Homo sapiens: one gene and its partners. The protein of the gene in region 2 purifies or fractionates together with the protein of the main gene of each other region. This does not show direct contact. Each region holds a gene or a part of one and is shown on either strand. Other genes may lie near its edges. The genes, in order: LIN28B, ERI1 and C1orf174.

Region 1 (3,732 bases), on a different chromosome or scaffold from region 2:
AAGCCTAATTATGCCCTTTAAGTAAGTGGTGAGTTTACAGCACATGAGAAAATACCATAATGATAAATGAAATTAATATTATATTGAAGATTAGTAAAATGCATATGAATTAATCTCATTAACAAGCACAGACACTACTAGGATAAAGGTTAATTTCCAGGTAGAAAAAAAAACTAAAGAAAACCAGAGTGAGGCCAGGCATGGTGATTCACGCCTGTAAATCTCTGTAACTTTGGCAGGCTGAGGTGGGAGGATCCCTTGAGCCCAGGAGTTCAAGACCAGCCTGGGCAACATGGGGAGACCCCGTCTCTACAAATATAATAAAAAATATCAGCCAGAGGTTGGGCGCGGTGGCTCACGCCTGTAATCCCAGCACTTTGGGAGGCCGAAGTGGGCGGATCACAACGTCAGGAGATTGAGACCATCCTGGCTAACTCGGTGAAACCCCATCTCTACTAAAAATACAAAAAATTAGCCGGGCGTGGTGGCGAGTGCCTGTAGTCACAGCTACTCTGGAGGCTGAGGCAGGAGAATGGCGTGAACCTGGGAGGCGGAGCTTGCAGTGAGCCGATACAGCACCACTGCACTCCAGCCTGGGCAATGTAGCGAGACTCTGTCTCAAAAAAAAAAAAAAAAAAAATCAGCCGGGCATGGTGATGCACACCTAGAATCCCAGCATCTCAGAAGGCTCAGGTGGGATAATTGCTTGAGTCAGGAGTTTGAGGTTGCAGTGAGCCATGATCCCACCACTGCACTCCAGCCTGAGCAAGAGCAATACTCTGTCTCAAAACAAAAACCAGAAAAACTCTTATAATTAAAATGATTAATAAAAACATAGCTCTTGAAAAAAAGATAAAAACTAAAACCTGAGATTGTTACAGTTTTTAAATTATTTTCATGTGTATTATTTCAATTGACCCTTACCATAACCCTCTAAAATAAAGATGAAAAATATTATTTATCACATTTTACCCATAAGAACACTGAAGCTCCCTGGAAGTGACCAGCCAAAAGTTATAAACCAACCAACTGGCAGAGCCGAAGCCAAACACTCATTCCCATGGTTTTTTTTCTCACAATACCACACTACTTCTCCTTTATAATACTAATTATGTACAACACACATTGAGTCCCTACTATCTGCCAAGTTTGTGTTAGGTGCTTTACATATGTAATAACATGTAATCCTCCTAACAGCCCTATACAAAGTGGGTACTATTTTTGTCCTCCGATTTATAGGCCATTGAGACACTGACAAGGTAACTTACTTCCCTTACAGGTATCTAATAAACTGGGATTTGAATACTGATTTGACCAGAATCTTTATCATTCTATACTATCTTACAAAGATTAAATAATTATTAACCAAAAAATGGTATTAAATTATCACAACAGGCCTATTTAAAACAGTATTTTTTCTTTAGCTTATAATGAATACACATGCATATGTACACAGGTAAAATCTTACACAGGTAAAATCTTATGTTACAACAATTATTAAAACCAAAATATCTGCATAACAAAAATATTTCCAAGCTGCAGTTTACACCCTGATACTTTAAACAATATTCTAGGCCTGGCACTGTTGCTCATGCCTGTAATCCCAGGACTTTGGGAGGCCAAGGCAGGAGGATCACTTGAGCCCAGGAAGTCAAGGCTTCAGTAAGCTATGATCCTGCCACTGCACTCTAGCCTAGGCAACAGAGTGAGACCAGATCTCAAAAAAAATAATAATTTTAGAGACCATCTTGCTCTGTCGTCCAGACTGGAGTGCAATGGAGTGATCTCAGCTCATTGTGGCCTCTGTCTCCTGGGCTCAAGAAGTGATCCTTTTACCTCAGGCTCCCTGATATTTGGGACCACAGGTGCATGCCATCAGGCCTAGCTAATTTTTTTGGTAGGGACGGAGTTTTGCCATGTTACCCAGGCTGGTCTAAAACTCCTGGGCTCAATCTGCCAGCCTCAGCCTCCCAAAGTGCTGGGATTACAGGCATGAGCCACCATGCTCAGCCAAAAGAATTATTTTAAATAACAAAAACAATATTCAATGCCACAAAACTATAATGAAAAGCCTTAACATCAACTGTAATGGAAATTAAACTATTAATATACAACACATTTTGGCCAATTTTAAAGAAAGCACATAAAAGACCAGCTTAATTATCCACCATGAGTATACACCACTGAAAATAACTTATCCATTATTCTTTTGGCAAAGACCAGTTTACATTAGTTTATTTTCTCAACAGACACTTACTAGGCAGTTATATAACATTACCTCTACTCTTCAAAACAACTTTAAAAGTTAGGTATTACTCCAGGTAACAGAAAATTATAGAAAAAATTATAACACTAAATCTATCAATTATTTGTAAATCTTATTTAGAAAATATTTCCAAATTGTCAAATATTTAGATATTGGAAAAGAAGAAGCAATAATCAGACTGTCCTCCAATTTGAGATAAATGATTAGATGTATCCTGATGTATCAAAATGCAACATGGTACTTTCATTACTTGTTTGATAAACTACTCATTAAAAGATCATTTTTAAATGTACCCCACTGACCTGCAATGTACTTTCTTAAACACATTACTGTTATCAACTTTTATGATATTAGAAGATGCTATAATCAATTATTTTAGGGAGGAATATAAATCAGTTGAATTTCTTATGCATTGTATATGGTACAATGCCATCTATTGTAACTATGTATTAAATAAGCTGAACTTCCTGTTACTCAAAACTCAGGGGAAATAGCTCAAAGTATAAAGAACTGATAGTCTTTGATAATGATAAAATATCCCATATTTCATTCCAAATCAAGTCTATAGAATATAACATTTAAGATAACTTTCCAGTTTAATTGATCAGAAGTATCTTCACTTTGTTTAGGTTATTCTCAGTTTAGAAGTAAGAATATAGTACATCAAGCTGGACACAGTGGTGCATGCCTGTAGTCACAGCTATTAGGGAGGCTGAGGAGGGAGTATCTCTTGAGACTAGCTAGGAGTTCCAGGTCAGCCTGGGTAACTTAGTCTCAAAAAAACAAAAACAACACAGTGCATCTTATTTTTAAGTAGCAACTTTTAAGTTAATCACAAACCAAAAGAGCTGCTCGGTTAAAATAGACATAACTATCTGTAATATTTCTAACTATCTCTGAATAGGAAGAATTAAACCAAATCCAAATAATGTTTTGTTGCTGCCTGAAAGCGACAAAAATTACAGTGAAGGACTCAATTTTTAATCTACCAAGGTGAACGCAGATAACAAATAAGCTTTTAATTTCTCATGAAACCTAAGAACTCTAAGATAAGTTAAAGACATGCTTTAAAAGGTTACACTGAATACTTGTAAGTGGTTTGACACTCATATTTTTATTTAAAAAATTATTCTTTGATTTACTGCATTCATTTGTTGTGAATAGTCTTTTAAAATAAAAGAGGAATTGAAAATTAGCGAGAACATGCAACACCAAAGGCTAACACTAATATAAACTATGGACTCTGTGTGATTATGATGTGTCAATGTACATTCATTAATTGAAACAAATGTGCCACTCTTGGTAGGGGATGTTGATAATGGAGGATGCTATGCATTTGAAGGGGCAAGGGTACATGGAAAAATCTATGTATTTTCCTCTTAATTTTGCTGTGAACCTAAAACTGCTCTTTAAAAAGGCAGGAGAAAAATATTTAAGAAGTACACCAATAATCTTTAAAACAGGAG
Region 2 (3,471 bases):
ACAACCTACCTGTTCCTGGAATATCAGGTTAAGCCAAAGTCTACAACGGGAGGCAGCATAGCACAGAGATAAAGAGCAAGGCTCAAGCCATACTGCCAGAATCTACAGCTCCCACTACTTAAACTTTGGCAACTTAACCGCTCTGGACCTCAACTTTCCCATCTGTAAACTGCAGAGAATGCCTCTCTCCATCACCAGATTCTTACTAAACAATGGAGTAAAGTACTTAACAGTGCTCCATAAATGTCTGATGCAAGTATCATTGTACCTTAACATTCAGCTCTACGCTCTCATCACAGTCGCATTTCTTGTTTGTTGATGGAACTTATATATTGCATTACATAAGGGAGGTAAGGGTAGGCAAACTTTCTCCATAAAGGGCCAGACAGTAGTATTTTTTGGCCTTGCTGGCCAGATGGTGCCACTGATGCAGCTATTCAACTCTGCCATTGTAGCACAAAAGTGGTCAGAGATGACATGAAAACAAATGAGAATGGTAGTTCTTTCCAAAACTTTATTTAGAGAAACTAAAATTTCGTAATTTTCGTATTATACAAAATATTATTTTGAGCCATTAACAAAAGGGAATATAAAAACCATAGTTTGTAGGCCATACAAAAATAGGCAGCAGCCAGATTTGGCCCATGGGTGGTAGTTTGCTGACCCCTGCTCTAGATTAACAAATTTACGGGCTTTGGAAGCTTTGTGGGGCAAGGAGGCTTGATATACAGGTTGGTGGTGCAGAACAAAGAGGAAATTTCTAAGTATAATAGAAAAAAGATGTAATGCTGTCCTTCATGTATCAACGCTGGATTCAACTATGTGCAAAACATTTTATCATATGTCGCTGGAATCAAAGATGCAGAAGTCACAGTCTCTGGTCTCGAGGAGCATATACTTCTCCATGGTAGCTTAGAAATGGAAAGTCTTCCTTCAAAGTACAATACATCCTTCTCAGACTTTGACAATGCACCCGTGCGTGCTCATCTGTGAGGCAGGTAGTTTCTTTGGCAACTACAGCTGAGGCCAAACATGCATTATTATCTTGACCACCTGTGCTTCTTCCCCTCCCCAGTAATCATACCAGTTTTTCTCCTGGTCTCCAAATTATTCTGTTTTGCATTATCATTTTGGGGATAATACTTGGGATGATATACTAAAAGTCAACTGGTCACATCTTTTTAAAAATTACCATTTTAATTAGTCTTCAGAGATACCCTCTCTCTCTTAATAGGTAACATGCTTGTGACGCCTGTGTTTTTTTGTTTCAATCCAGGCAGAAACTTCTCCCTAGGAGGCAGGATAAATGGATCTATCTCAAGGCAACAAAGACACATCACAAAAACATTTTTTTCAGAGCAAATGTTAAATACTTGATCCAACAGAACACAAATAAAGATAAAATGTAATGCTCTATTATATACTTCAGTTGGTTATAAAGATTGCGGATTTGAAAAAAATCAGCAGAAATCCACTATGTCAATGTCAGAGCATATGAAGCATAGAATAAAAGTTAACACAGCTAATAATAAATTGTTTGTAAATACTAAGTAACTATTAATAAGAAACAATAATAGAATATACTAATATTGTTTTCATGGACATCCATCTCTTACGTGTTTCCTTGTAAAAAGTTGTACTATTTGTCTTTCAAAGACAACACAATAAAAGTCAGAGTAAAAAGCAGTACTCTCAATGTTTAGTATCATCTCATCAGCAAAATCCCAAATCAAATTGGAGGGGAGGACAGAGACTCAACAGAGGAATTAAAATGGGTTAAGACAGTAAAATCTATGGCTGAGCGCAGTGGCTCACGTCTGTAGGAGGTCAAGGTGGGCAAATCACTTGAGGTCAGGAGTTCAAGACCAGCCTGACCAACATGGTGAAACCCCGCCTCTACCAAAAATACAAAAATTAGGCGGGTGTGGTGGCACGCGCCTGTAATCTGAGCTACTCAGGAGGCTGAGGCAAGAGGATCACCTGAGCCCAGGAGGCGGAGGTTGCAGTGAGCCAAGATCGCACCACTGCACTCCATCCTGGCAGACGAGCAAAAACTCTGTCTCAAACAACAACAACAACAAAATAGGGTACTGAGAGCTTATAATGTTGAAGTTCTTAAAAAGAAATACAACATGAGCTTGTTGGTACTTGGCGAAAGTGAAAACAGGCAAAGAAATTAGCAGATAGAGCTAAAAAAACTGGAAACGTAATATTTCCTCGTCATCATCAGATTTTCCAATTGCAGTTTCAGCTATTCAGTATTCAGTAATACTTTACAGGTTATTGTACAGTGCTATCTGGGATGCACAAACATCTCAGCATACATCCCTCTTATCCTAAGAGTTAACTGTATAAACTTAAAGCACTTAGATTTCCTTATTTTACTATAATCTGTAACAGTTCATCTAGGAACACCACACTCTCATATGCCTTCTGTTATTTACACATTATTCTTTATGATACTGATTATATGACTACTGCTGAAAAGCAGAAATTCATTGGCTTAAGAAATCTACTGCCCTATGTAGAGAATTCCCACGCCAAGAAAAATGTCTACTTTCCTGCTTTTCACCCTATATGATATAGGTTTGGAAACCTTTGAGGAAATTCATCTGGTTATAAAATATAAATCTTTAGAATAAAGTAGCATCACAATTTTTATTAAAAGGTAAAAGGCAGGAAGCAAGCAATGTCAATGAAATTGTTCCCTGAAAGCTACAAGGAGAAAAATTCAATTCTGAAAATACATGGGTTTAGCCTCTAGATAAGAGTTTTACCTTATCAAGTCGAAATGCACATTTTAGTTTTTAGAATTAGTTAAGAATTACTCAATACTTAGCAGCCATTTACTATGTAAAATCAGAAAAACAAGTCTTTTATTGACTAACTTCACTAGTGGCCAATGAAGTTTTTTAATAACAAAAACGTAATATATGGTAGAAAGTATTGACTTTATTAACCTCACTTACGATACTGAATACAAAGTAAAATTAGGTGGTGACCCTTAATTTTCAGTCTATTTCAAAGCATGGTCCCTCAGATTTAAGAATTAAGGCATACATATGTCAAAAAAGGAAGGCGAATCAAACAACCAAATCCAAAAAGACCCCAGTGATTTATGTATTATGAAGTTTGAGCTACAGCCCTTATGATATTCCTTTTAGTACTTTCTTCTACGTTTTCATTAATTCCTTCAGTAACTGGATTTTTAACCAAACCCTATAATCCATCATAATTCTTCCAATTATGAGTTGAAAAGAAACATAGGCAGATATGTATACCAAGTACCTTACGAAATTCACCACATACATGGTGAACTTCACATATAAACTTTGAAAATCAAAAGGACTATGATATTCTTGAAATCCAAAGGCTAGATAAGATCTACCTTCCAATCATTTCTGCATTTTAAGATATGGTTTCATCTAGTGATGTTAATAAAGAAACACATTACATATTTAAACACCAGTA
Region 3 (3,732 bases), on a different chromosome or scaffold from region 2:
TGCTGGGTTCAAAACAAAAGAAATTAACAGCAAGCGCGGGGTGGATGTTCAAAAAAACCACAAACCTGATTTCATGGAAACACACCTTTCCCGAGAGCAGTGATTCTCAGCTCGGGAGATGCAGGGAGAGCCCCCAATTAGCCAACGGTTTCATTTTCTCCTCGTGGGTTAAAATGATTAGTTTATGTTTAATGTTGTGTCGAGGCATTATTTACCTGCACTGAGTGGGGAGTGTGTGACCTGAATGTGCAGCTGCTGCCTGAGTACCCACGGGAGGAGGAAGGCGCCGCTCTTACCTGCATGAGCTCAACGTTTCCAAAGAACCGGCTCACGGGCATTGGCTGATTGCTGTCGTCATCTAGAAAGACGCTGTTGTCCATCTGAAGTGGTGGCTTCTGCACATCCTCTGTCTGTAGCCCTGGCTCATTCTGCTTCTGCACAGTGGAGCTGCTGTTGGATTCTTCTGCTCCGGACCCGGCACTGTGTTTTGGCACGGACAGGCCATCTCTAGTCTTTGCTAAGCGAGAGTCACTCACAACTCTGCAGCCACCGAGAGGAAGACTTGCAGCCCCCTGCTGCACAGAAACGCCAGCCTCGCTGCCTGGAAGCAAGGCACTGCCTTCAGCAAACTCATTTTCACAAGGGGTCTCAGGTGTCACTTTTGGCAAAGAAGCGCTGTCATTCTTAGGGACAAGCTTCTGTAATTCTGACTTCACAAGATGTCCTTTGTCACATTTGAACTTCTTGGACGTTCGCGTGTCTGTGGCTTTGTGGGATGAGGAAGTCTGTCAAGAAAAAAAATGTAAGGGGAACCAGACATATCTAGCAAATAAAACAGGCCTCAATCCAGAGGCTAGTATTTCTTCTCACATCGGAAATGATAAAGATGCTGTGACCACAACTTTCACAGATCGTCATTTCACTGTTTTGCCACCAAGGGACAAAATACAAGCGAGACTGAATCTAGACACACCCCACACCACTCCTACACTTTCAGTTTTCCCTAGTGGCGTTACAGCTCCACACCACTCCTACACTTTCAGTTTCCCCTAGTGGCGTTACAGCTCCTCAGGTGAATTCTGAAGCATATATTTATATATTATACAATTACAGTAAAAGAATCCAGCTTTCATTCATTTCTGCTAGGGCATAAGCTCTGTGAAGGCAGGGGTCTTTGCTTTATTCACCAATTAGTGCCTGGCACACAGTAGGTGCTCAAGAAATATTTGTGAAATTGACTTCGACAAAATTTTACCAAGCACCTCATCATGAGCAAAGCTCTGTGCTACACGCTGGCATATGGCCAAGTCCTAACCCCTCAACTGTAGGCTCCGTGAAGCGGCTCTACTTCACCGGTAAGTTCAGGAACTCGCTCCTCGGAATCGATGGCTGGGCTAGGGTGAACGGCAGACGGCATGAGATTCCTTTCCCCACCCACTCTGCCTTTCTCTTCAAGCCTCTGGCGGTGAGGCTGCACGGCAATGGGCCAGCATGACTCCATAGCACGCTAAGAGCAGAGCGATGAGCACAAGTGGCCTCAGAGCCTGGTTTAGACACACACACGGGTGGGCAGGTGCTAGGATCAGAGCCCGGGTCTAGACACACACACGGGTGGGAGGGTGCTAGGATCAGGGCCCGGGTCTAGACACACACACGGGTGGGCGGGTGCTAGGATCAGAGCCCGGGTCTAGACACACACACGGGTGGGCGGGTGCTAGGATCAGGGCCCGGGTCTAGACACACACACGGGTGGGCGGGTGCTAGGATCAGGGCCCGGGTCTAGACACACACACGGGTGGGCGGGTGCTAGGATCAGGGCCCGGGTCTAGACACACACACGGGTGGGCGGGTGCTAGGATCAGGGCCCGGGTCTAGACACACACACGGGTGGGCGGGTGCTAGGATCAGGGCCCGGGTCTAGACACACACACGGGTGGGCGGGTGCTAGGATCAGGGCCCGGGTCTAGACACACACACGGGTGGGCGGGTGCTAGGATCAGGGCCCGGGTCTAGACACACACACGGGTGGGCGGGTGCTAGGATCAGGGCCCGGGTCTAGACACACACACGGGTGGGCGGGTGCTAGGATCAGGGCCCGGGTCTAGACACACACACGGGTGGGCGGGTGCTAGGATCAGGGCCCGGGTCTAGACACACACACGGGTGGGCGGGTGCTAGGATCAGGGCCCGGGTCTAGACACACACACGGGTGGGAGGGTGCTAGGATCAGGGCCCGGGTCTAGACACACACACGGGTGGGAGGGTGCTAGGATCAGGGCCCGGGTCTAGACACACACACGGGTGGGCGGGTGCTAGGATCAGGGCCCGGGTCTAGACACACACACGGGTGGGCGGGTGCTAGGATCAGAGCCCGGGTCTAGACACACACACGGGTGGGCGGGTGCTAGGAGAGCCAGCCCTGGCCTGCAGAGTGTGTCTTTCTCTGAAGGCAATTACAGTGCTGTCACCTTTTCATCTGCAATAGTCCCCCTCTGGCAGATAAGTAACAGTCGATATTTTTCTAAAGCAACACATCTTGGAGTGGCAATTTTGTATAAAAATGGACCCTCGAGTCAGGATCTTGGCGTTCTCCACGGTAACAGGGCTCACCAGACATGCTGTCTTGGCAGACGTGGAACCAGCAACTTCCTGGGCAGAGGCCAACCTGGCTGCCGAACAACTTCGTGCTTTCAAGCGCGCTGAAGACCGCACTGCACCTGTGAGCTAGAGAGATTGAGAGCCACTCAGAGAGTGCTCTCAGGAAGGCAGCATGAACATGTAGACGAGAATTTCCCACCTAAAGAACACCCGAAGACCGCCCCTCCCACTCCCAGGATTTTATCATCTTTGTGGAGACAGCTGTGGCCCGAATGTGTAAATCCAAATGAAACTGTGCCTGGATTTAGGATACAGGATCTACTATTTCCACGATTTTGGAGGCTTGGGACGATCTGTCCCCCTTATCTTGTATATTTCTAGTAGCCACCATTTGTCCTTTAGTGGAAATTAAGTCAACTTCAAAGTGTTTAGAATAAGCAGCACATGCCCTTCCTTAGAAGGCTCTCCAACTTTCATACGTTGTCAAAGTTTTTAAAAAAAGGTAACATGAGGAAACCAAAGTTTCTCTTCCTCAAATTAGACTCCTATTCTATTAGCTGAATGCAGCTAGCGACTGTCTCACAAATTTTAATATTAACAAACTGGTCCACCTCTCTTTTATCCTGAATGCAAAGCAAACTCCTCTAATAACAAGAAAGAAATTAATTAAAGACATAACATTTAAAATAACTATTTAGGAATAATTTTCGGCATTCAGAAAGTTGCAAAAAATAGTACAAAGAAACTGGTGTGATAGCTCACACCTGTAATCCCAGCTACTTGGGAAGCTGAGGTAGGAGGATCGCTCGAGCCCAGGAGTTCAAGACCAGCCTGGGCAATACAGCGAAAGCCCATCTTTAAAAAATTTTTTTAAAAATTAGCCAGGTGTGGTGGTGTGCACCTGTAGTCCCAGCTATGTGGGAGGCTGAGGTGAGAGGATCACTTGATCCCAGGAGTCTGAGGCTGTAGTGAGCTATGACTGCACCACTGCACTCCACCTGGGTGACAGAGTGAGACAGTGTCTCTGAAAAAATAATAATAATAAAATAGTACAGGGAGTTGCCATGTAGCCTTCACTCAGCTTCCACTAATGTTAAACAACTACAGGACATTGTCAACATTAAGAAATTAGTG

The links.
Region 1: the proteins of ERI1 (region 2) and LIN28B purify together in Homo sapiens (co-immunoprecipitation; one large-scale study listed by IntAct). This does not show direct contact.
Region 3: the proteins of ERI1 (region 2) and C1orf174 purify together in Homo sapiens (co-immunoprecipitation; one large-scale study listed by IntAct). This does not show direct contact.

Annotation. Positions count from the first base shown.
Region 1 is NC_000006.12:104,963,528-104,967,259, reverse strand, and holds part of LIN28B (protein lin-28 homolog B), read right to left. Parts: intron 1-3,732. UniProt on the Homo sapiens protein: Suppressor of microRNA (miRNA) biogenesis, including that of let-7 and possibly of miR107, miR-143 and miR-200c.
Region 2 is NC_000008.11:9,030,368-9,033,838, reverse strand, and holds the end of ERI1 (3'-5' exoribonuclease 1), read right to left. Parts: 3' UTR 1,291-3,471; coding exon of another isoform or gene 1,228-1,290; 3' UTR 501-1,227; downstream 1-500. UniProt on the Homo sapiens protein: RNA exonuclease that binds to the 3'-end of histone mRNAs and degrades them, suggesting that it plays an essential role in histone mRNA decay after replication.
Region 3 is NC_000001.11:3,890,273-3,894,004, forward strand, and holds part of C1orf174 (UPF0688 protein C1orf174), read right to left. Parts: intron 2,725-3,732; coding exon 2,611-2,724; exon of another isoform or gene 2,477-2,610; coding exon of another isoform or gene 2,469-2,476; intron 1,508-2,468; coding exon of another isoform or gene 1,354-1,507; intron 786-1,353; coding exon 297-785; intron 1-296.